7 linked regions of the Homo sapiens genome follow. The protein of the gene in region 5 purifies or fractionates together with the protein of the main gene of each other region. This does not show direct contact. Each region holds a gene or a part of one and is shown on either strand. Other genes may lie near its edges. The genes, in order: ATP13A2, ARCN1, TMEM109, SPAG1, ATL3, ETFB and ESYT2.

Evidence for each region.
Region 1: the proteins of ATL3 (region 5) and ATP13A2 purify together in Homo sapiens (affinity purification with mass spectrometry; one large-scale study listed by BioGRID and IntAct). This does not show direct contact.
Region 2: the proteins of ATL3 (region 5) and ARCN1 purify together in Homo sapiens (affinity purification with mass spectrometry; one large-scale study listed by BioGRID and IntAct). This does not show direct contact.
Region 3: the proteins of ATL3 (region 5) and TMEM109 purify together in Homo sapiens (affinity purification with mass spectrometry; one large-scale study listed by BioGRID and IntAct). This does not show direct contact.
Region 4: the proteins of ATL3 (region 5) and SPAG1 purify together in Homo sapiens (affinity purification with mass spectrometry; one large-scale study listed by BioGRID and IntAct). This does not show direct contact.
Region 6: the proteins of ATL3 (region 5) and ETFB purify together in Homo sapiens (affinity purification with mass spectrometry; one large-scale study listed by BioGRID and IntAct). This does not show direct contact.
Region 7: the proteins of ATL3 (region 5) and ESYT2 purify together in Homo sapiens (affinity purification with mass spectrometry; one large-scale study listed by BioGRID and IntAct). This does not show direct contact.

The regions. Positions count from the first base shown.
Region 1 is NC_000001.11:16,991,429-16,994,928, forward strand, and holds part of ATP13A2 (polyamine-transporting ATPase 13A2), read right to left. Parts: intron 2,408-3,500; coding exon 2,201-2,407; intron 1,154-2,200; coding exon 1,058-1,153; intron 975-1,057; coding exon 815-974; intron 702-814; coding exon 581-701; intron 431-580; coding exon 306-430; intron 1-305. UniProt on the Homo sapiens protein: ATPase which acts as a lysosomal polyamine exporter with high affinity for spermine. Also stimulates cellular uptake of polyamines and protects against polyamine toxicity.
Region 2 is NC_000011.10:118,585,909-118,589,408, reverse strand, and holds part of ARCN1 (coatomer subunit delta), read right to left. Parts: intron 1-3,500. UniProt on the Homo sapiens protein: Component of the coatomer, a cytosolic protein complex that binds to dilysine motifs and reversibly associates with Golgi non-clathrin-coated vesicles, which further mediate biosynthetic protein transport from the ER, via the Golgi up to the trans Golgi network.
Region 3 is NC_000011.10:60,917,158-60,920,550, reverse strand, and holds part of TMEM109 (voltage-gated monoatomic cation channel TMEM109 precursor), read right to left. Parts: intron 2,936-3,393; exon of another isoform or gene 1,398-2,935; intron 866-1,397; 5' UTR 858-865; coding exon 621-857; intron 1-620. UniProt on the Homo sapiens protein: Functions as a voltage-gated monoatomic cation channel permeable to both potassium and calcium. Plays a role in the cellular response to DNA damage.
Region 4 is NC_000008.11:100,238,587-100,242,404, reverse strand, and holds the end of SPAG1 (sperm-associated antigen 1), read right to left. Parts: intron 3,166-3,818; coding exon 3,001-3,165; intron 2,003-3,000; coding exon 1,634-2,002; intron 1,515-1,633; coding exon 1,383-1,514; 3' UTR 501-1,382; downstream 1-500. UniProt on the Homo sapiens protein: May play a role in the cytoplasmic assembly of the ciliary dynein arms. May play a role in fertilization. Binds GTP and has GTPase activity.
Region 5 is NC_000011.10:63,661,377-63,664,876, forward strand, and holds part of ATL3 (atlastin-3), read right to left. Parts: intron 1-3,500. UniProt on the Homo sapiens protein: Atlastin-3 (ATL3) is a membrane-anchored GTPase that mediates the GTP-dependent fusion of endoplasmic reticulum (ER) membranes, maintaining the continuous ER network. It facilitates the formation of three-way junctions where ER tubules intersect.
Region 6 is NC_000019.10:51,356,389-51,359,888, forward strand, and holds part of ETFB (electron transfer flavoprotein subunit beta), read right to left. Parts: intron 1-3,500. UniProt on the Homo sapiens protein: Heterodimeric electron transfer flavoprotein that accepts electrons from several mitochondrial dehydrogenases, including acyl-CoA dehydrogenases, glutaryl-CoA and sarcosine dehydrogenase.
Region 7 is NC_000007.14:158,730,497-158,733,003, forward strand, and holds the end of ESYT2 (extended synaptotagmin-2), read right to left. Parts: 3' UTR 501-2,507; downstream 1-500. UniProt on the Homo sapiens protein: Tethers the endoplasmic reticulum to the cell membrane and promotes the formation of appositions between the endoplasmic reticulum and the cell membrane. Binds glycerophospholipids in a barrel-like domain and may play a role in cellular lipid transport.

The sequences.
Region 1 (3,500 bases), on a different chromosome or scaffold from region 5:
GGCTGACATCATTATCCCCATTTCTCAGAGGTGCCACCTGGAACCCAGGCTGTCTGACAGCGCACATGGGTTCCTTGGAAGTCACTCCACTCCTCTGAGTCTCAGTTTCCTCATCTGTCAAACAGGGGTGACAATTACCACTTGCGGGGGGGATATTGTGAAGATTCACGAAATGTTTAAAAAGGACCTGGCCTGAAGCAAGGGCCCAAAAAGATGCCCCAAAAAGGAATCCCTGGTGCCCCTCTTCTCTGCCAGGAAGGGGCGGATTCTGCCCTGCTAGCCCGGGCCCCTACATGCCATTGTACCTGTCACCATGACGGCGCGGATGCGGGTCCTTCGCAGAGCCTGGATAACTGGCGTTGTCTGCGGCTTCAGTAGGTTCCTCATGACCAGCAGCCCCAGGAGGCTCAGGTCTCCTTCCACAGTGTCCCTGGAGGGTGGGCAGACCTGGATCAGAGGTCATGCAGTGGCCAGGGCCCCTCTCCCAGCCACCAGGCAGGGCATCTTCCTTGGGCTCTGCCTGCGTGAGAGCCTCCCTCTGCCTAGTCCTCAGAGTGGGTGGGACAGGAGACAGGCCCACCTCGTCAGTTGCTGGGCTGCCTCCAGGCTGGGCACAGTGGGCAGTGGCTTGCTGGCCAGGGCCACGACACGGTAGCCAGCAGCTGTATAGCTCTGCAGCATCTGGGCGAAGTCGGTGGGCACTGCCAGGGAGAGGCAGGTGTCACAAGGAGGGGATGGCAGGGACAGAGGCTGGGTACCCACCCCATTCTGTGCCAATGCCCAACCAGGGGGACTCAGGGGCTTCCCCCTGCACCTGTCTCGGGGTTGCAGAGCCCTGCCACCAGCTCCGGGGAGCCTTTGACGTAGGCCTCGGGCTGAGTGGCCCCTGGCCACGCCACCACCACACTCATGCGCTGCAGAGCCGAAGAGAAGGGGAAGCGGTGGAGGACGCTGACTGGCACCGGGGGCTCCTCCTGCAGGGTTGGAGAGGCAGCTGAGGTGCTGGCTGGGGAGCCCACCCCTCTGCCCTGCACCCAACAGGCCCCCCTCAGCTCACCATTGCCTGCAGCTGGGGCTCCCAAAGTGGGGGTCTCATCACTGCCAAGACCTGGGTCCCAAATGCTGAGTCTGCAGCCGGCTCTTCCTCCAGGACCTGGCAGGCAGGCAGGGAAGTTTGGTGTCTGGGGGCTTTGGCTCACAGAGAGATTTGAGCTAGACTCAGGGAAGACTTCCTTCATGGGAGACTGAATGGTGGGTTAAGAATGTGGGCTTTGGAGCCCGGTGGACTCAAATTCAAACTCTAGCTTTGCTACTTACAAGCTGTTGGGTGACCTGGAATACGTCACTCCAAATCTCCCAGCCTCAGCATCCGTGAAGCAACATTTGAGCTTGCTTGCTAGGGCTTGGGGAAGAGGAAATGAGACCAGGCCTCTGTGGCCGTGCGCTGGCGCATAGTAGGCACTCAGCCTGAGGCCTTGCCATTATTATTATGTTACTTTTATTTTAAGACAGAGTCTTACTCTGTGACCTAGGCTGGAGTGCAGTGGTGTGATCTCGGCTTACTGCAACCTCTGCCTCCCGGATTCAAATGATTCTCCTGCCCTCAGCCTCCCAAGTAGCTGGGACTACAGGCATGTTCCACCGCACTTGGCTAATTTTTGTATTTTTATTACAGACGGGGTTTCACTATGTTGGCCAGGCTGCTTTCAAACTTCCGACCTCAGGTGATCTGCCCACCTCAGCCTCCCAAAGTGCTGGAATTACAGGCATGAGTCACTGCACCTGGCCTATCATTATTATTTTTTGAGACAGGGTCTCGTTCTGTTACCCAGGCTGGAGTGCAGTAGCGTGATCACAGCTCCCTGTAGCCTCGCCCTCCCGGGCTCAATTAATCCTCCCACCTCAGCCTCCTGGGACTACAGGCATGCACCACCACGCCCGGCTAATTTTTGTATTTTTGGCAGAGATGGGGTTTTGCCATGTAGGTCAGGCTGGGGTCCCGGGCTCAAGTGATCCTCCCGTCTTGGCCTCCCAAAGCGCCGGGAGCCACGTTACAGGTGTGAGCCACTGCGCCTGGCCTATTATTATTAATGGTGGGCATAATAAGAGACCACCCTGAAAGATGGAGAGGGAAGACAGGGTGGGATTCGTTAGGCCCCACTGCCCAGAGGCAGGGGGCTGACCTGCTTGGCCTCCTCACCCAGCCAGTAGACTCCACCATCTTCAAGTCCATGGGGTCGCCCACGGGGGTGTCCTGGAGCCGGCTGAGGGCATGGCAGGTGGCCAGTGCTCGGAGCAGGGGCCCCACAGGCAGGCGGCGAGGCTCTGGGACCAGGGGCAGGAATGCCTGCCCCTTCAGGGGCACCACCCCCATCACGTCTAAGCCGTCCTCAGTGAGGGTGCCCGTCTGTGGGAGACAGGTGGGTGGGGCAGCGATGAGTCCTGGGATGGGGGTACCCTGCTGAGCTGGGCCTCCAAACCCCAGGCCCGGCGGACCCTATGGGAACCCCAGGAACTCGAGCTGGAGCCAAAAGATGACCTTTCTTGACTGCTGTCCTTGGCACATGTGATTCCCTCTGCTGGGGTCCCCCTCCCCAGCCCCCACCGTCTCTCTGTCTAGCATCATCTCTTCCAGGGTGTCTTCCTCCTTAACTCCCAAGTTAGGGCAGGTGGTTTGCTCTGGGCTCCTACCCATGGCCTCTTCACTTCCCCACACTTGTGCATTGTGGTTAAGGACCCGGCCCACGGTTGGCTCGCTCTCTCTCTCTCATTTATTTATTTATTTATTTATTTATTTTTATTTTTATTTATTTTTATTTTTTGAGATGGAGTCTTGCTCTGTCGCCCGCGCTGGAGTGCAGTGGCGCAATCTCAGTTCACTGCAACCTCCACCTCCCGGGTTCAAGTGATTCTCCTGCCTCAGCCTCCCGAGCAGCTAGGATTATAGGCACGCGCTACCTCGCCCACCTAATTTTTGTATTTTTAGTAGAGACGGGGTTTCACCATGTTGGTCAGGCTGGTCTCGAACTCCCGACCTCAGGCAATCCACCCGCCTTGGCCTCCCAGAGTGCTGGGATTACAGGCATGAGCCACCACGCCCAGCCTCAATATATCTGTTGAATGAGCGCATGAGTCAGTGCCTGCGTTCCCCATCCTAGACTCTAACTGCCCAAGTACGCGTCTGGCTCCTTGGCTAGCCTGGGAACTATAAGAATCTGGTCATCCCCCTCCCCGGTTTATTTATTTTTTTTTGAGACGGAGTCTCACTCTGTTGCCCAGGCTGGAGTGCAGTGGTGTGATCTCAGCTCACTGCAACCTCTGCCTCCCGGGTTCAAGCGATTCTCCTGCCCCAGCCTCCCGAGTAACTGGGACAACAGGCATATGTCACCGTGCCTGGCTAATTTTTTATATTTTCAGTAGAGACGGGGTTTCACCATATTGGCCAGGCTGGTCTTGAACTCCTGACCTCATGATCCACCCGCCTCGGCCTCCCGAAGTGC
Region 2 (3,500 bases), about 55 Mb from region 5:
AATGAATAGTAGGCAATGGTGAGAAAACAAACAACTGAAAAAACTTTCTATTTGTAAGTATTTTCAAGCTTAAAAAAATTAAAATTATACAAGGAAGACATATATACCCTTTTCCAGATTCACCTATTGTTAATATTTACCTCATTTGTTTTATAATTTGCACTTGTGTTTCTCTCTCTCTAAACATTATATATGTATGTTATACATTTGATTTTTTTTCCCTGAACCATTAAGAAGCAGATTATATACAACACGGCACTTTACCCCTAAATACTTCAGTGCTTATTTTATAAGATTAGGGATATTCTCTTACATAATCAATCACAGTACCATTATTAACTTCACAAATTTACACTGATAGTTTTTTTAGCTTTTTGTTGTTGTTGTTTTGAGATAGAGTTTCACTCTTCTTGCCCAGGCTGGAGTGCAATGGCGTGATCTCGGCTCACTGCAACCTCTGCCTCCCGGGTTCAAGTGATTCTCCTGTCTCAGCCTCCTGCGTAGCTGGGATTTCAGGCACCTGCCACCACGCCCGGTTCATTTTTGTATTTTTACTAGAGTCAGAGTTTTACCATGCTGGCCAGGCTGGTCTTGAACTCCTGACCTCAGGTGATCTGCCTGCCTCGGCCTCCCGAAGTGTTGGGATTACAGGCGTGAGCCACCGCACCCAGCCTGTTGTTGTTGTTTAAGAGACAGATCTTGCTATGTTGCCCAGGCTGGAGTGCAGTGGCTATTCAGAGACACAATCACAGTTCACTATAACCTTGAACTCCTGGTCTCAAGTGATCCTCCTGCCTCAGCCTCCTGAGTAGGAAGGACTACAGCCATGTGCCATCATGCCAGGCTAACAATGATACAATAATTGTATCCGATCTGTCAACCATATGTCAATTTCGTCAGTTGACCTAATAATATTTTTAATAGTAGTTGTGATATTATGATATACATACATACCGGTTTTCATCCATGGTTCCTAGCTCATAACTCCCATATCCCTTATTATACATAATGTTGGGGCACTTTAGGCCTCAGGAGCAGCCCTTAGAAAAAAGAACCTCTCTTTGACCTTCTCCTGCCCTCCTTTCACCAGCCCAAGGCAGGATCTCCAAAAGGGGTCCTGCACCATATCCTGGAGGAAGATTAATGCTGCACAGAGAGGCCAAGAATTTGGACAGGCCTTGCTGTGTTTCCCCACTCAGCCTATCAGTATTAGGTCATACCCTTGCCCAGTCACATTTCTGCATGCCTGTCAATCATGCCTATCCAATGAAGTCTCCATAAAAGGCTCAAGAGGACAGGGTCTGGGAAGCTTCTGGACAGCTGAACACATGCAGGCTTACAGGAAGATGAACAAGGTCTCATCTATTTTCCAGGAGGGTGGCGTACCCCAGCTCCCTGGGGACAGAAGCTCCTGTGCTCAAGACCCTCCCAGACCTTGCCCTATGTATCTCTTCATCTGGCTGCTTATTTGCATCCTTTAAAATGTCCTCTGTAACAAACTGATAAATGTCAAGTAAGTTTCCCTGAGTTCTGTGAGGTGCTCTAGCAGATTAATTGAACACCCCAGAGGGGGTCGTGGGAGGCCAAACTTGAGGTCAGTAAGAAGTTCTGAAAGTCTGGACTTATGACTGGTGGGAAGGAAGAATCAGTCTTGGGGGACTGAACTCTCAACCTGTAGAATCTGAGGCTATTCCCAGGTAGATAGCATCAGAATTGAATTGAATTGGAGGACACCAGCTAGGTGTGACCGCTTGATGTGTGCGGAAAAATCTAAACACACTTGATCACAGAAGTCTTCTGTGTTCATTGTTGCTGTTGAATGAGAAAATAGAAAAAACAAACAGTTTGAGTTGTTTTTTCTACACTACATTAGTAGAGGATCCAGTCTAGGGTAAGGTATTGCGCATTTAGATGTCATATCTCTGCAGTTTCAAATAAGGAGATTCTTATCTCCAAAATAATTAAATGAAAAATGCAATTGGAAGACGTGTCTAGTTTTACTGCTTTGCATAAAAGGGGGAAAAATAGACACACTGTATACATGTTTTTTATTCATCTGTATATCACAGACCATCCCCCTTAGAAGGATACACAAAAAACTCTGTTAATACTAGTTGTCTCCAAAATGAGAAACTGGCATGGCTGAGTGAGAGGAAGACTTCTGACTGTTAACAACTTTTGAATTTTGTACTATATGAATGTATAATCCAATTTTTAAAAGATTAAAAACTGCTGCTGCTAGAGGCAAGTATTAAGTACAATCTATTCATATTCAGTAATAGACATACGTTTGGCTGGATGAACTACAGAGGCTACAAAAAATATTTTGTTATCCTACCATGTTCTTTGTTCCAACCTCTTAGGTCTTCCTAGAAACAAAGGCATCAGAGTCAAGACCATAAAGGAGTGCATCTTAAGACAATGCATGGTACCATTTTACCTTCACAAAAGTTTGCTCTGTGCTCAAGAGGCAATTTATCATTTAGAAAAAAACAGTGTCTCAAATTCTCTTTAATATGTGATGATCTCCAACATTTTTTTTTTTTTTTTTTTTTTGGAGATAGAGTCTCACTCTGTCGCCCAGGCTGGAGTGCAGTGGCACCATCTTGGCTCACTGCAACCTCTGCTTCCCGGGTTCAAGCAATTCTCCTGCCTCAGCCTCCTGAGTAGCTGGGACTACAGGTGTGTGCCACCACGCCCATCTAATTTTTTGTATTTTAGTGGAGAAGGGGTTAATTTTTTGTATTTTAGTGGAGATGGAGTTTCACCATGTTGCCCAGGGTGGTCTTGAACTCCTGAGCTCAGGCAATCCGCCCACCTCAGCCTCCCAAAGTGCTAAGATTACAGGTGTGGGCCACTGCACTCAGGAATATCTTTTTAAAAGTGTGAAGCCTCTGTCTCACTCAAAGCAACCACTAGGAAGAGCACAGCGGCTTTAGTGAATCAAGAAATTTATCCCAATGTAACCCTGTTCATTTCATACAGAACAGGGCATATAAAGAGTAAATACTTGGCTGGGCACGGTGGCTCACGCCTATAATCCAAGCACTTTTGGGAGGCAGAGGCAGGCAGATCACTTGAGGTCAGGAGTTCGAGACCCACCTGGCCAACACGGCAAAACTCTGTCTCTACTAAAAATAAGAAAATTAGCCGGGTGTGATGGCGTGCACCTGTAATCCCAGCCACTTGGGAGGCTGAGGCAGGAGAATTGCTTGACCCCGGGAGGTGGAGGTTGCAAGATCGTGCCATTGCACTCCAGTCTGGGAGACAGAGCAAGACTCTGTCAAGAAAGAAAGAAAGGAAGAAAGAAAGGAAAGAAGAAAGAAAAAGAGTAAATACTCCTCTTTTATGCACACCTGATAAAGGTATCCTCCTGGTATTATCTTTCACTTGACCTCAAAACCATCAGCAACAGTAGAAGGTCTGGCTTCAAGACGAGAAATCTGAGTCACGAATATGTGAACTTGATAACTACCACTTAAAAATGTCACCAACCAGTA
Region 3 (3,393 bases), 2.7 Mb from region 5:
TTTAGTAGTCACCCTATAAAACTGGAGGCCTGCTAGCTGTCCAGGGAGTCATGAAGGTGCGTGGAGAACATCTGTAAAGGGATAGGATGTTCCAGTGAAAAAGGAGTCTATCAGCTATACTATATTATGGATTTAATAAATGATTGTCTCAGCCCTTCAGTCCAGCCTATCAAAAGTATGTGATACCATGCTTGGGATGCCACCAGGTAAAAAAAGATAACCCTGCCTTAGGCTCCCAATAAGCTCAACCCACTTCTGCAGGTGAAGGAATGGATTCAGGACTTGATATTTTGCCATTTCGAGATTCTAGGTCAGATTTAGACCAAAGTGAGACTCTACAGTCACCCAGTAACATGGGCTTATAAAGATGGCTCATTTCCCAGCCTTTCTGGCAAGGAAAGGGCAGGAGCCAGGAAAGGATAGGGGTGGAGCTAAAAGGCCCTAGGACAGCAATCAAATAACGAGGAATTCAAAGACAAGTGCTGTGTGGCTTCTTTTTGTGGAATTTGGGGCTCTCTGCACCAGAGAGGATGTGGAACTAAGATGAGGTGGCCATTACCAACCTTTCTTCTTTTATTTTTCCTTAATGTGTGTAGTCACACAGGGACTACCTTCCTTACCTCTGACACCAGGTGCATGGTCTCTGGCCCAATCCAGGCATCCAGTGTCCCTCGCACAGATCGACCTATCTGGGTCAAGACATCAACTGGGGCTTCTCTCTTCTGTTGGCCTGGTGGTGCAAAGTCTCGACGGGACTGGGCCAATGCTGAGTGGAGGAGGATAAGGGCCACTAGGACCATCAGAATGGCTTTGAACACATGCTTTCCCCATGGTGAACTGATGCTGGAGGCTGCCATGACTGGGTCTGCCAGGAGAGAAGCACAGTGAGCTGAGTGCCATGGTAGACACACTCACCCTCTCAGCTCTGATTATCCCAACATCCTTCTCCACCCCTACCCCAAGCAAGCACCAAACTAACCCTGGAAAGAAAGTGCTGTTAGCTGGGAGAGGAAGGACTGGGACTTCCAACTGAAGCTGGGCACAACCATCTGACTCACAGGTTCCTCTTTCACATTCTTTACCACTTGCATATTAATTAACCAGCAAGTATTATTCAACACTTTAGAGTTGGCGAGAAGATCTCTCTAAGGTTTGTGCCAGTTCTAAAAATCTGAAGGCCTGTCCCTGTATCTTAGGTGCTATAGGCATAAAAGTATTATAAGACTCTATAAAGGCTCTGTCCCAAGGAGCTTATAATCTACTTAAGATACAGCTGGTATAAAAAACAACTTAAAAATAGCACACAAGTAGGATTACTGCCATATAATGGTATAAAGAAAAGTGCTCAGTTATGTGCTCAAACAAGAATAACTGCACATATGTCATCTTCTCTGCAGGACCATCATGTGAGGTGGCTTTTATCCTCCTCGCCCCTACTGGTACAGACGAGAAGAAACTGTGACTCAGAAGTTAAGCATTTTCCCATGGTCACTGGGCTACACAGAAAGGCCAGGATTTGAACCCAAGCTTCTGCTTCCACCCATCTTCATTAGGAGTCAAGTTATACTGTGGGTCTCAACCATGGCTGCTCACTGGAATCACCTGGAAGCTTCCCAAGTACTGATGTCTGTGTCCCCAGCCCAGAGGTTCTGATATCATTGTCTGGGTGTGGCCTAGCCTTGGATCTGCAAAAGCTCCCTAGGCAGTTCCACTGCATGAAGTTGAGAACCACTGATACAGAGTGACCTCACCTCCCCACCCCCAATGGAGGTGCTATGGTTTGAAGAGCAAAACTCATGTTGAAATTTAACTGTTCTTGCACCTCCTGCAGAGCCTGGGAGCTCCCAGTCCAGCCAAGGATGTTGGATCTCATGGTCCTAAGTACTTCTTTGACACCCCATTCCCCTCAGTAAAATAGTTTGACCCCTTCTCCACCAAAAAAAAAAAAAAAAGAAAGAAATTTAATTGCCATGATGATGGTATTAAAAGGTGGGACCTTTAAGAGGTGATTAGGTTATGAGGGTTCAGCCCTCATGAATGGATTAATGCCGTTATCTTGGGAGTGGATTAGTTATCCCAGGAATGCAGCTCCTGATAAAAAGGATGACTTTGGCCTGATTTCCTGTCTCTGTCTCATGTGCTGGGTTCTGCCTTCTGCCATAGGATGACCCTTGCCAGATGCCAGCGCCATGCCCTTAGACTTCCCAGCCTCTGGAACTGTGACCCTAATGAATTTCTGTTCATTATAAACTACGCAGGCAGTGGCATTCTGTTATAGGAAGCAGAAAATGGACGAGGACAGTGAGCAAGGGTATAATGAACAACCTTTAAAGAAATACTATTAATAAAAAGCTAACATTCAGCTAGGTCTTGCCATGCACCACCGCGCTCATTTAACTGTCACAACAGCCCATCGGGTAGGTGTTGCTATTATCCCCCATTTTACTGAAGTAATTGAGGCAGGTTAAGTATTAACTGGGGAAATCAGCATTTGAATGTAGGTACTTCTGACATTGGACCCCTCATACACAACAACTCTGCTGTATTGTCTCCAACTAAGTCTCAGAAGTGATTTAGAAAGTCATACAGGCCAGGCACAGTGGCTCATTCCTGTAATCCCAACACTTTGGGAGGCTGAGGTGGGAGGATTGCTTGAGCCCAGGAGTTTGGGAGCAGCCTGGGCAACATAGGAGACCCTGTCTCTACAAAATAAATATAAATAAATAAATTAGTCAGGTGTGGTGGTGCGTGCCTGTACTCCCAGCTATTTGGGAGGCTGAGGGGGGAGGATCACTTGAGCCCAGGAGGTCACGGCTGCAGTGAGCTATGATCATGCCACTGTATCCCATCCTGGGCAAGAGAGCAAGACGCTTAAAAAAAAAAGTCACACAACAGATTATTCATGAGTTAAAATAAACTTGGCATCTACCAATCATCTCAGTGAATTACTGGTGAAAATTACCTAACAACTTTGTGCTTTGTGCTCTGGTCTTGTAACACAATGCCACAGACAAGTTAAGACCCAACAAGTGCCAACTCATTGAAGCAGGTAAGGATCAGCCAAGAAAAAGTACACAAGTTCAACTTCTACTTGCCACTGTGCTTGAGAAATGTCAGACAGCGCCAGCAAATTCCCTGTTCCCCTCCAGGTTCAGAAATGAACCTGTAGCTCCAGGAGTTTTCATGATTCAGACCTGATGATCAGAGGCTAAGCCATGCCCCTGAGGTAGGAGCAGTCAGGTTTTTGAACTTTTTGCAGTTACACAGGCACTCAGGGAGTTGACAATAAATCCAGAGCCATGAGGGATGGAGAAGGAAGAGAATGATGTCCTAGTCTTGCTTAGGGGGAAGGAGGAGAGTCTAGGAAAGGGTTCTAAAAATACTACATTTAGG
Region 4 (3,818 bases), on a different chromosome or scaffold from region 5:
GATAAATGACACACAGTGCCTATCACAAAGCTCAACAAAATCACCTACAGTTATTAATGTCACTGTGTCAGGCACCAAAAGAGAAAGTTCCCTTTTGTCTCTAAAGTTAATTTCAAGTTGCTATGTATAGGAAAAGAGTGGTCCCATTTCTGTAAGTAAACTCCATACATAGGATACATTTCTAACAATCCACCATTTACTTTTATAAAAATTCAATAACATTAAAAAGGAGAAATTTTGTTTGAAGACTAAAGTCCCATTACAGATTTTTCACTTATGAACAAAGAAAGCAGTTTCAAAGAAAAATGGCACAGTTTGAAAGATATTTACCCAAGATGAGTTAAAATATTCTGTAACTATAAAAGATTAGATAAAATAATAATGAATATGGAAATAGTAAACATGATACTAACTTTCATCTTCACTTCTAAGTGAATAAGAAAATGCTCCAGAAAGGGGGAACGCACTACAGACCGCAGAAATAAATGACAGTACACTGATGGAGATTGAAATTCCTTCACTTTGACCCAGTCAACAAAGGAGCTTTCAACATGTATGAGTTCTTCATATTCTTTTACAGTAAAGGAATAAATACAGTCATAAAAGCAGAAAACAAAAAAGGGGGAAGGGGGACATTCAAATGTTTGGTAAAATATGGAGGTAATAATTCAGATATAAATGCAGGCTTAGTTTGCTTTAATACAGTGGTTGGTTTTTTGCTTATATAGGCAATATAAAAGAAAGTAGCTTTTTAAAATCTAGTAAAAAGTGGTAGAAATTTTTGGCAATTTTTGTTCTTAATTATTAGGCAATGCTTCCGTATTAGAAAAAATAAGTTCCTCTTATAGCTCTAAATTAATAAACAATTTAATAATCATTTCATGTTATAGACTTCAGTGTTGCATTTCATTTTAACTGACTGTAATCCACAGGTACTAGTACAAAATGGGATTTATGTGTATCTTAGCAGGATATAAGTGATATAATAATCACTGTTAATGACTTCCACTTTTAAAAAAGAATGTTACAAGAAATTCATTTCTATCAAACTTAAGAGGACTCCTTCATAGCCCAAAGAAATGCAACTTAACTCAAAATTTTAACAAGTAATTAAAATAATATGTATATCATAAATTAAAATGTATTTTTAACAAGTTCTAAATATACTTATTTGGTTCTGGTACATAAGAAAATATTTACAACTAATAAAAAGCAGATTGTAGAATATACATGTTCTATGTAGGAAAATAAGTAAAATGTTTTATAGTGCAGACCAAACTTTTCTAGGCCAAGTTTTATCCATGCAACTCTTTTACAATACCATCTCATTAACATTCCTGGAACACATACATGCATGGAAGAAATCTAACAATTATCTTGATTTAAAGCTCATACTGCCTTTTTAGGGCCTGTATATCTTCTAAAGTAAAATGGTTGTTTGGTGTGTCCGAAAGGTCCTCAAACAGCTGTTCAATTAGCTCCTTTTGGCCCTTGCTAATTAGTGTCAACATCATCTAAAAGAAGCAAAAAAAAAAAAAAACAAAAAACCAACTATGTTAGCATAAGTAACATTTTTAAGTTACAGAAACCCTAATAAAACCAATTTCTACTAATAAAATACTTAGCCACTTACCTTAAACCTTTCTGCTTTACTCAGGTATAAAAGATGCTGATACACCAATGAGGGATCTTTTTCAATAAGATTATTTTTCAGAGACTGAATGAGGAGAAGGAATGTATCCCCTTCAAGTTTGTTACTTAAAAACATCGGCAAATCTTTTGGTGCAGTGATGGCTAAAAGATGTGCACAGGCTTCTTTATCCTTCCTGGTACTGAGAGCATTTATAATCTGACCAAATTCATAGGCATTATTAGGCTTGGCTATCGGAAGTTTCTCAGGGTCTTCTGGTGACCTGCTGCTTTTGCCTCCCTTCTCAGAAGCAAGGCATCCCATGGAGACCTCCCCTGCAGGTCTTCCAGGCTCCTCCTTGCCTTCATTCACCTTCATGAAGAAAAGAAAAATGCATTGTGACACTGAACCACAATCACCACATACATCCTAAGTACGTCTGTCAGAATGAGAATTGAAAACTACAAGTAGACTGTACTGTAGTCCAGTTCCAAGTGAAAACTTTGTAATAATTTTTTTTAGGAAGAGAAGTTTTAGGGTGTAAGATCCAATTCATAAAAGTTTTAAAAAATTATTTGACATTGAAACTATGACAACAAAATTTAATTTTTAGACTTTATACAATTGTTGTATAAATGCCTATGTCAATTTTATCTCCTTTTCACAATAAATTTTAACAGAGAAATGAACTTACATTGCTCGATTCTCCTAAAACAGTTTTTTCTTCCCTCCTTAAAGAGGAAAAAAAACCTTCCTAGCTTCTCTTACATATTAGCCTCTTACTCTTAGTGGAAATGTGAGACTATAAATGGGGTATTAGCATTCATGAATGTACAGGGATTCACAGCCTAACATTCTTCCCTAATATTAGGCAGAGAAAAACATTTTAGTTATCTGAATCACAAAAGCAGTTTGATCCTGAGGTAGTTCGAGATCTCTGATGAGGCAGTCATATTTCAGAGTGCTAAAAAGGTCTGAATCAATCTGGATAATCTCTATGAGGTGAGGCTTTCAGGGCCCCTGTAACAAAATCAGTCCCGTCAGGATTCTCCAGGTCTACCCTGGAGCAAAGTCAGTGGCCGCTGGTTCCCAGTGTACTCTGGAGTGGGAGCAGTACAGATGGAGGCCAAAGAAAGGAAGAACTGCAGTAATGCAGAGACTCCCAGTACCATCCATGGACCCACGTTGGGAAATACAATGGCTAATTATCATTGCAAAGGAGACATTTTGTTGCTGGTTAAAATTTTGTCACTGATCATCAGAATAAAAACACAAAATTAAAAATGTTTTAGAACTCACAGGAATATGACCTTAGAATCCAGTCTAAGGTCCCCAAAGGAGTACTTTCAAAGATAATCAAATACAAATACCTCTTGAATCTCAATTTTCCTTCTCTCCTTTTCTTTGTTGAATGGTGCTGTCTTATCCTTAAGATTAAGGAGTCTAGTTACCTCTTCCAGTTCCATCTTTGCCTCAATAATACTTGGATCTAGTAGGATAACTTTATTGAGATCAATTAAGCTTTTCTGATAATTCTGTAAGTAGGAAGACAGAGAAAATAACTTTCATAAATAGAAGGAGCCTAGAGTAACCTGAGTGGGAGTGGGGTGGATGTAGTGAGCTGTGCAGTATGTGTGCAGGGTCCACATTAATACCACTCTTACAAAGTGAGCCTGTGGGGTGAATATGCAGCTGAAATAGTATAACCCATGATACAGTGAACATCGACTATAGAAGAAAAAGCACAGGATCTGGAGTTAGAAAACGCAAGTTAAATTCTGTATCACCACAACCTTCCCAGTCCCTAACACATGATAAGCACTTGTTGCTTGCTGAATGAATAAATGAAAGAATGAACTCATCCTTGTATTAGCACCTACTAGCAATGAAACTTAAGATCCTACTTAACCTTTCTGGGCTTCAGTCTTCTCATCTTTAACATAAGGGGAACAAAAGCTCTATTCAAATTTTCACAAGGCTGTACCAAGAAATAAATGAACAAATAATAAGTGGCTTAAACCTATAAAGGACTATGCAAATGGTAGTTATTATAATACTTTTGTTCCATAAAATCCTTCCAGGTTGTTTACTCTTCGAATTGGCTAGAGTCAACATTTAATCTTCCATGAGTCACACAATACACTGAAGAAGTTGAGGGAAAGAAAGGGCACCTAACAAGACATGACCA
Region 5 (3,500 bases):
TCAAAATTAAGCACTAACTATATTATACTTTCCTTACCAGAGTTTCCCTACCAAAGCACAAAGATAACTAATTAATTTGAAATTCAGGCCAGGCACAGCATCCACGCCTGTAATCCTAGCACTTAGAGAAGCTGAGATGGCAGGATTGCTTGAGGCCAGGAGTTCAAGACCAACTTGGCCAATATAGCGAGAGACTGTCTTAAAGAGAAGAGAAGAGAAGAGAAGGCAAGGGGCCGGGCGTGCTGGCTCACCTGCGCAATCCCAGCACTTTGGGAGGCCGAGGCGGGCAGATCACCTGAGGTTGTGAGTTCCAGACCAGCCTGACCAACATGGAGAAACCCCATCTCTACTAAAAATACAAAATTAGCCCGGTGTGGTGGCACGTGCTTGTAATCCCAGCTACTTAGGAGGCTGAGGCAGGAGAATCGCTTGAACCCAGTAGGTGGAGGTTGTGGTGAGCTGAGATTGCACCACTGCACTCCAGCCTGGGCAAAAGAGTGACACTCCGTCTCAAAAAAAAAAAGTGAAAAGAAAGCAAGAAGGAAATTCATTCAGGCTAGACATGGTGGCTCACACCTGTAATCCCAGCACTTTGGGGGCCAAGGCAGGCGTGTCACCTGAGGTCAGGAGTTCGAGACCACCCTGGTCCAACATGGTGAAACTCCATCTCTACTAAAAATACAAAAATTAGCCGGGCGTGGTGGTGGGTGCCTGTAATCCCAGCTACTCCAGAGGCTGAGGCAGGAGAATTACTTGAACCTGCACGGTGGAGGCTGCAGTGAGCCAAGACCGTGCCACTGCACTCCAGCCTAGATTTCAGAGCAAGACTCTATCTCAAAAAAAAAAAAAAAAAGAAAGAAAGAAAGAAATTCAGAGCCACTTAGTAGCTGTGGACTTATGGGAAGTTCACAAAAAACTACCAGTGGGGCGTAAGGAATGAATAAAGAACTATTTCCCTAAGAGTATGTGTCACTGGTATTAAAGATGTTTTTAGGTAGTTAAAAGGACATAGTAATTTTAATAATTATGCATGTTAATGTATACTTTAAAACAACAAATCTGTATTTTGATAAATTATTCTTTAGAAGGATGCTAAGTTTAAGAAGTCTGTTTATTTATTTAAGACAAGGTCTGGCTCTATAACTCAGGCTGGAGTGCAATGGCACAATCTTGCCTCACTGCAACCTCTGCCTCTCCGGCCCAAGTCATCCTCCCACCTCAGCCTCCCAAGTAGCTGGGACTACAGGCATTCATCACCACACCCAGCTAATTTTTGTATTTTTGGAGAGACAGTGTTTCACCATGTTGCCCAGGCCCGTCTTGAACTCCTGAGCTCAAATGATCCACTCGTCTCAACCTCCCAAAGTGTTGGGATTACAGCGACACCGTACCCAGCCAAGAAGTCAATTTAAAGTCGACTTAAGGAGACATATTAAGTAAAGCTTAGTACTGACAGGCAGACATGGCCAAAATCACAGCGACACAGTACCCAGCCAAGAAGTCCATTTAAAGTAGACTTAAGGAGACATAGTAAGTAAAGCTTAGTACTGACAGGCAGACATGGCCAAAATCACAAAGATGGTTCCAAAATGACTTTGTCTAACCAGCACTGAAGGCTACACGATCATGGCAGGCAAAGCAGACAAAACAGTTTGACTGCAAGACTCTCTCCCCTTCAAGCTACTGGAATTGCTGCTCACTTTTTACATTTATAGTATCAGATAGCAACAGAAGGGTTCTTCGCACTTTTTTTTTTTTTGGAGACAGTATTTTGCTCTGGCACACAGGCTGGAATGCAGTGGTGCAATCCTAGCTTACTGCAGCCTCAAACTCCTGGGTTCAAGCAATCCTCCCACCTCAGCCACCAGAGTAGCTGGCAGTACAGGTGTGTGCCACCATGCCTGGCTAATTTTTTAATTTTTTTGTAGAGATGGGGGTCTCATTATGTGGCCCACATTAGTCTCAAACTCCTGGGCTCTAGTGATCCTCTCACCTCAGCCTCCCAGAATGCTGGGATGATAGGCCACTGTGAATGTGGATGATAGCCACTGTGGCTGGCTTCTTCCTACTTTTTAAGTTTTTGCAGACTATTGGAAAACAAGTTATAAATATAGGTTAAATGTCATGCTATCATTGTAATCAATGTATACTAATACTTTTCTTTCCTGTTATTGCCTGGATTAAAAAGGAAACACTTCTGTGAATAATCTCTTAGGGTTCTTATTGCCCCAGCAGCAGGTAAATCCAAGATCCAAAGACCTTCAGTCTTTCATACAAAGAACTAATGAGAAGAATTTATTCAGACTTCAGGGATAAGCCACAGTGTTAAGTACTGTGTAGCACTCAAAGAAATACAAAACAAAGTCTTGATTGTGGCAGAGATGTCTGGTTGTTCCCCCAATATTAATTTCTCCCTCCTGCTATATAATAGATTTTTAGCTGGGCATACAACTGCCCAGAAGAAACACATTTCCAACCCAAATTTATAGCTAGGATATGACCAGGTGACTAAATTCTGAACAATGGGAAGTGACTGGAAATAACAGACACAACTTCCAGATCAGGCATTTTCCCCCTGCTTGCTGGCTAGATGTAAAAGTGGGAGTGAATCATCTTGGGCCAGGCATATGAGGGCAACACCCCAGGAATGCTGGAGAAACAAGAGAGGTCAGATTTCGTATAGCAGAACTGCCATATTGGTTCACTTCTGTGTGAAAGAAAAATAAATGTCTACCTTGCTTAAATCACTTATTTGGAGGCTCCATCAAATACAGCCAAGCCTAGCAGCCAACACAACAGTCTTCCAGGACTTTACAATTAAGTTCATCATACCAGATCTTTTTGTTTTATCTATTTCACTATTAAAAGTTTACTGAGCGAGGCCAGCCTCGGTGGCCCATGCCTGTAATCCCAGCACCTTGGGAGGCCGAGGCAGGCAGGTCACTTGAGGTCAGGAGTTCGAGACCACCCTGGCCAACATGGTGAAACCCCATCTCTACCAAAAATATAAAAAATTAGCTGGGCGTGGTGGTAGGCACCCGTAATCCCAGCTACTCGGGAGACTGAAGCAGGAGAATCGCTTGAACCCGGGAGGCAGAGGTTGCTGTGAGCCAACATTGCGCCACTGCACTCTAGCCTGGGCAACAGAGCGAAACTCTGTCTTTTAAAAAAAAGCGTACTGAGCAATGTGAATGTAATGAGCAATATCAATGTAATGACACACAGCACATACAATAAGCTATTGTTTTTTTGTTTTTTTTTTTTGAGACGGAGTCTCGCTCTGTTGCCCAGGCTGGAGTGCAGTGGCGCGATCTTGGCTCAGCGCAACCTCCGCCTCCCGGGTTCAAGCGACTCCCGAGCAGCTGGGACCACAGGCATGCACCTCCATGCCCGGCTAATTTTTGTATTTTTAGTAGATAGAAGGTTTCACCATATTGGCCAGGCTGGTCTCGAACTCCTAACCCTGTGATCCACCTGCCTCAGCCTCCCAAAGTGCTGGG
Region 6 (3,500 bases), on a different chromosome or scaffold from region 5:
CTCTGACATTTTCTACCCTTTTTCGGAAAAATGCCAGCCCTCTGCCTGGATGTCATGATCACACATGGTCACAACCTAATTTGGAAAACACCAGCATGAAAGACCTCTTTGCTAAACAGACAAGGGAGGTAAGGGAGGTGGGTGGCAAACCCCACCCATTTGCTTCTGCACATCATTTTTGTCTCTCCTGGGCCCCACTGTGTGCCTGGCTCTGAGCTGGATCCTGGGGACACCATCATGTGCCAGGGAGAGAGGCTTCCGGTGTAGACCAGGGTGTAGCGTGAACCACTAACCACTCTCCTATTAGTTTCTCTCGGCTGCCGTAACAAATCACCATATATTTGGTGGCTTAGAATCTTACAGCTCTGGAGGCCAGAAGTCCAAAGTCAGTGTCACCAGGGTGAGACCAAGGGGTCTGCAGGCCCCGGGAGGAACACGTTTCTTGCCTCCTCCAGCTTCTGCTGACACTCCCTGGCTTGTGGCTGCATCGCTTTATCTTCAATGCCAGCATCCTCAGCTCTGTCTTCACGTGGCCTTCTCCTCTCTCTGCGTGTCTAGTCTCCCTCTGTCTCTCTCTTATAAGGACTCTTGAGATGGCATTCAGGGCCCACCTAAATAATCCAGGATAATGCCCCCATCTCAAGATGCTTAATTTAATCACATCTGCAAAGACCCTGTTTCTAATTTCTTTTTTTTTTTTTTTTAGATGGGCTCTCGCTCTGTCGCCCAGGCTGGAGTACAGTGGTGAAATCTCGGCTCACTGCAACCTCTGCCTCCCGGGTTCAAGCAATTTGCCTGCCTCAGCCTCCCAAGTAGCTGGGATTACAGGCATGCATCACCACGCCTGGCTAATTTTTGTATTTTTAGTAGAGACAGGGTTTCACCATGTTGGCCAGGCTGGTCTTGAACTCCTGACCTCAGGTGATCTGCTCTCCTCGGCCTCCCAAAGTGCTGGGATTACAGGCATAAGCCAACATGGCCAGCCTGCAAAGACCCTGTTTCTAAGTGATTTCCCCTTCTCAGGTGCCAGGGATTGAAACCTGGCTGTTTTGGAGGGCTATTTTATTTCTTGGCCCACCACAATCCTTTTTTTCTTTCTTTCTTTTTTTTTTTTTTTTTGAGATGGAGTCTTGCTCTGTTGTCCAGGATGGAGAGCAGTGGCATGATCTCAGCTCATTGCAACCTCTGCCTCCCCAGTTCAAGCGATTCTCCTGCCTCAGCCTCCTGAGTAGCTGTGATTACAGGTGCCCACCACCACGCCCAGCTAATTTTTTGTATTTTTAATAGAGACAGGGTTTCACTATGTTGGCCAGGCTGGTCTCGAACTCCCGATCTCTGGTGATCCACCCACCTCGGCCTCTCAAAGGCAGGGGATTACAGGCGTGAGCCACCGCTCCTGGCCCAACCTGAGTTTTTATAAGGTCATTCTGGATTCTTGGTGGAGAAAATTGGAAAAGGATGAGAGGAAGTGGGGAGAGAGCTGGGTGGCTGTTTGTCACCAAAGTGAGAGGTGACAGTGGCTCAGACAGCTGTGACAGCAGAGACAGATGCAAGAGGTTTCTGGAGGTGCAACTGACAGGCCATGGTTCGTGATGGGAAGATGACACCAAAAAGGGGCTTCCAGTCAGTACATCAGCCAGAGCCGGGAAGACGGCGAGTTTGGTTTGGGGCACAAATTTTTAAAAAGCCTCCAGGGACATCCACAGAAGCCTTGCTAGGGAGCTGCCCCATTTGGCCTGGAGCCTGCCCTCTTCCTCTTCTCCCATGTGGCCGCCACCCAGGGCTTGGCCAGAGCAGATCTCGGGTGGCAGCTGAGCCTGGTGAGGACACTGGGATGCTCTTGCTATTTCCCTGCCCCTTTTTCTCTGGGGCTGTGGGTGTAACTGTTCCTCCCACAGGCAGGACAGAATCCGAGATGAGAAGGTGGGACCCATAAGGGGCTTCCCACTCTGGCTGTGCCTCATGGAGAGGGTAACATTAAAAGATGGAGGACTGAGACCGGGCGCAGTGGCTCCTGTCTGTAATCCCAGAAATTTGGGAGGCCAAGGTGGGAGGATCACTTGTGCCCAGGAGTTGGATACTAGCCTGGGCAACAGGTTCTACAAACAACAACAACAAAAACAAAAACAGCTGGGCGTGGTGGCTCATGCCTGTAATCCCAGCACTTTGGGAGGCCAAGGTGGGCGGATCACCTGAGGTCAAGAGTTCAAGACCAGCCTGGCCAACATGGCAAAACCCCATCTCTACTAAAAATAAAAATAAAATAAAAAATTAGCCGGGCATGGTAGTGCACGCCTGTAATTGCAGCTACTCAGAGGCTGGGGCAGGGAGAATTGCTTGAACCCAGGAGGTGGAGGTTGTAATGAGCCAAGATTGCGCCACGGCACTCCAGCCTGGGCGACAGAGCAAGACTCCGCCTCAAAACAAACAAACAAACAACAACAAAAAAAAAAAAAAAAAAACAGCCAGGTATGGTGGCACACACCTGTAGTCCCAGCTACTCAGGAGGCTGAGGCGGGAGGATCACCTGAGCCCAGGAGGTCAAGGGTGCAGTGAGCCGTGATCATGCCACTACATGTAACCTGGGTGACAGAGCAAGACCTCATCTCAAAAAAGAAAAAGAAAAAGAAAAAGGAGAAAGAGGAGAAGGAGCTGGAAGAGGAGAGGAAAGAGAAAGAACTGTTATTTTCATCTCTCTCGTTGCCCAGGCTGGAGTGCAGAGGTGCCACCTTGCCTTACTGCAACCTCCACCTCCCGGGCTCAGGTGATCCTCCCACTTCAGCCTCCCCAGTAGCTGGGACCACAGGCGGGCACCATCATGCCGGGCTAATTTTTTTTTTTTTACTTTTTGTAGAGAAAGGATTTCCCCGTGTTTCCCAGGCTGGTCTGGAACTCCTGGCCTAAAGTGATCCGCCTGCTTCAGCCTACCAAAGTGATGGGATTACAGGTGTGAGTCGCAGTGCCTGGCCTTTTTTCTTAAAAAAAAAAACACAACATAGGAGTTGCCCCTTTAAGACAGAAAAGAACCTCATCCACCCATCAGTAAGAGGCCCCAAGCTTCTTGCTGTGAGTCAGGGAGGCTTCTGAAGGGCCTCAAGCCACATCTTGCTCTTGCTCTGGCAGAACTCCCAGCCCTAAGCTCCTGATTCCCAGGCTCCTGACTCCTGAGGAGAAAGGGTAAGAACTTTCCAGACACACACACACACACGCACGCACACACACCTGAGGAAACAAACTAGCTCATCTTCTCAATTAAGCTTGAGTTGATTTTAAGCTTCAAAAACAGTTTAGTTATATTACATAAGTCAGGAAACAATGGTAGGGCTGAAAAATGATAGCTTGTTTGTTTTTTAAATAATGATGGCTCATGCCTGTAATCCCAGCACCTTAGGAGACTGAGGAAGGAGGATCACTGGAGCCCAGGATTTCAAGACCAGCCTGGGCAACATAGAGAGACTTCATCTCTACCAAAAAACAAAATTAGCAGGTCATGGTGGCGT
Region 7 (2,507 bases), on a different chromosome or scaffold from region 5:
GATGGCCCACAGTCAAGGAGAAAGGAAGTGCCCGGTGTCAAAGGCCCACAGTCAAGGAGAAAGGAAGTGCCTGGTGTGAAATGCCGAGCGGCTACGAGGAAAAGCGCAAGGGCTCCACTCAAGTCGATCCAGACCACCAGTAATGAACGCAACAGGAAGGGATACTCCAGTATCACCCTCAGTGTTCCAATGTTCAGGTGTCTCGGCAGTCCCCGCTGCACTTCTCAGAGCCCTAGTTAAAAACACATTTAAAGTTTATTTTTTCTACGTATGATTATCCTTTAGAAGAGCTGTTTTTGACATGTGGAGTGTAATGTGCTGGGCAGAGGAGAGTCAAACTGAGCTGGGAACAACAGGAAGGATGTCAGCTGCTCTGACGTAGCTGCTGGGAAAACGCGAGTGCAGACAGCAAATGAAACAGTGCACGACGTCTCCTTTCAAATTATCTGACTGCACACTGAACACCTCCCTTCAAAAGACAGAGAAAAACAAATCACGACTGAGCTAACATAAAGGTTTTATTGAATAAATACATGCACTGTCACGTGAAATTAGTTGAACAGAAAGGAGGTTCTCTACTTTTTAACCCCCATCCCCCACCGCTGTTCTCTATTTGCAGTGGGGGGTCCAGCTGGAGGTGGAATAAATGCGGCAACCACAGAAAAAACACACAGCTACACACAGGCCTGCATTTGGCTTATGTGCCTGAAAAAGAAGGGCCGACCTCTTGATAAAGAATGTCTGTAAAAGGAATTCTTACCGTGCAGAATATATTATCATGGTAAATACAGTTACAAGGCTGCTTCTATTTTATTTATTTTTTGAGACGGAGTCTCACTCTGTTGCCCAGGCTGGAGTGCAGTGGTGCGATCTTGGCTCACTGCAACCTCCGCCTCCTGGGTTCAAGCAATTCTCCTGCCTCAGCCTCCCGAGTAGCTGGGACTACAGGCGTGCGCTCCACCACCACGCCCGGCTAATTTTTGTATTTTTAGTAAAGATGGGGTTTCTCCATGTTGGCCAGGCTGGTCTTGAACTCCTGACCTCAGGTCATCCGCCCGCCTCGGCCTCCCAAAGTGCTGGGATTACAGGCGTGAGCCACCGCACCCGGCCAGCTGCTTCTATTTTAATCTGAACTTGGAAACACCTTCCTACTTTAAGGCACAGGATCAGGATAAGAACCCACATGTACGAGCTAACAGAGCTGCACTTCAAATTTACTAAGTTAATTAATTTTCCCTTCATTGGCTTGGCTCAAGGTAGAAAAGTTAAAATTCCCTTTTCTTAGATAAACTGATTATTTAAAACTGAAAATTAACGTTTTGACAACTCAAGAGTGTCTGACATCGCTGGGATCCTGGAGTGCTGAGTGTGGCCTCGATGGTGGCTTCACTCCTCCACATCTGGGAGGCACTTCAGTGCCTCAGAATCACCCCCTTTTTTTAAAAGAGAATGGAGGCAGCTACTGGAGGCCAAGCACCTCCAGGCACTCAAGGCCCTGGGGACAGCGCTACTGACTCCACTGCCTCAGGGCAGGCACGGTGCTGCTCTACCACTTCCTCTGGGCTTTGTACCTTTAATTGTGTCTACTCTGCCTAAGTGCTTAAATAAAGCATTCCATTAAGCAAAATACACATGGAGCGGATTACACACTGGACTGCAGAACTCAGATGTATGGGATGTTGGTAAAAATTACTGGCATGCTACAATTTCCATGAGTGCTGCTGCTTTATAGATTATGACAGAAGACTTTCAACAGACCTGATTTTTAAAAAACCCTCAACAAATCTAATACTAAGGGAAAGCAACTAGATTTAATGTTGTTACCTGTCTTCCATAAATACCATAGTTAAATGTTTTGTGTGCATACATGTTCGTATTTGTCTATAAAGGTATTGATACGCTTCCCAAATAATCCTATATACTAACATTGGAAATGGTTTATAAAGAGGCTTTACAGTCGCATGTCATTCAGCAGGAGGGAATATACTGGTCTTTATGATTACATGAAATATGCTGTGAAGCTACAGACTCCATTATAAGTAAACCCATGGTTCAAAGTGTAAGTTATAAATTGAAACAAAATCAAAATCTGCTAGAAGGGAGGGTGGGTAGACAGCCACCAGCCTTGTTTATAAATTCAAACAAAATAAGAATCTGCTAGAAGGGAGGGTGGGTAGACGCCACCCGCCCCGTCACAGGCACTTTGGTTTGTTTGGTCATGTGAGTTACCCACAAGTTGTATAGTTCCATGAAACAAGCTAAAAGCTCCAATTTAAATTACAAAGCTATACTTTCCTTAATATATTTACACATAGTTTTAAGATGTTCTCATGGCTATGGAAGCCATTTTCAGCATATAGCTTATAATATACACTTAATCGTCTACATATGTGCATTCTTTCTTTACAGACACACACAGCCTACGACACTGCAACAGAGCCTCACCTCACAGGAGGTCTGGGGGACTCTTAAGTACAGAAACCTGCTTTTAACAGTCTAAACAGGAT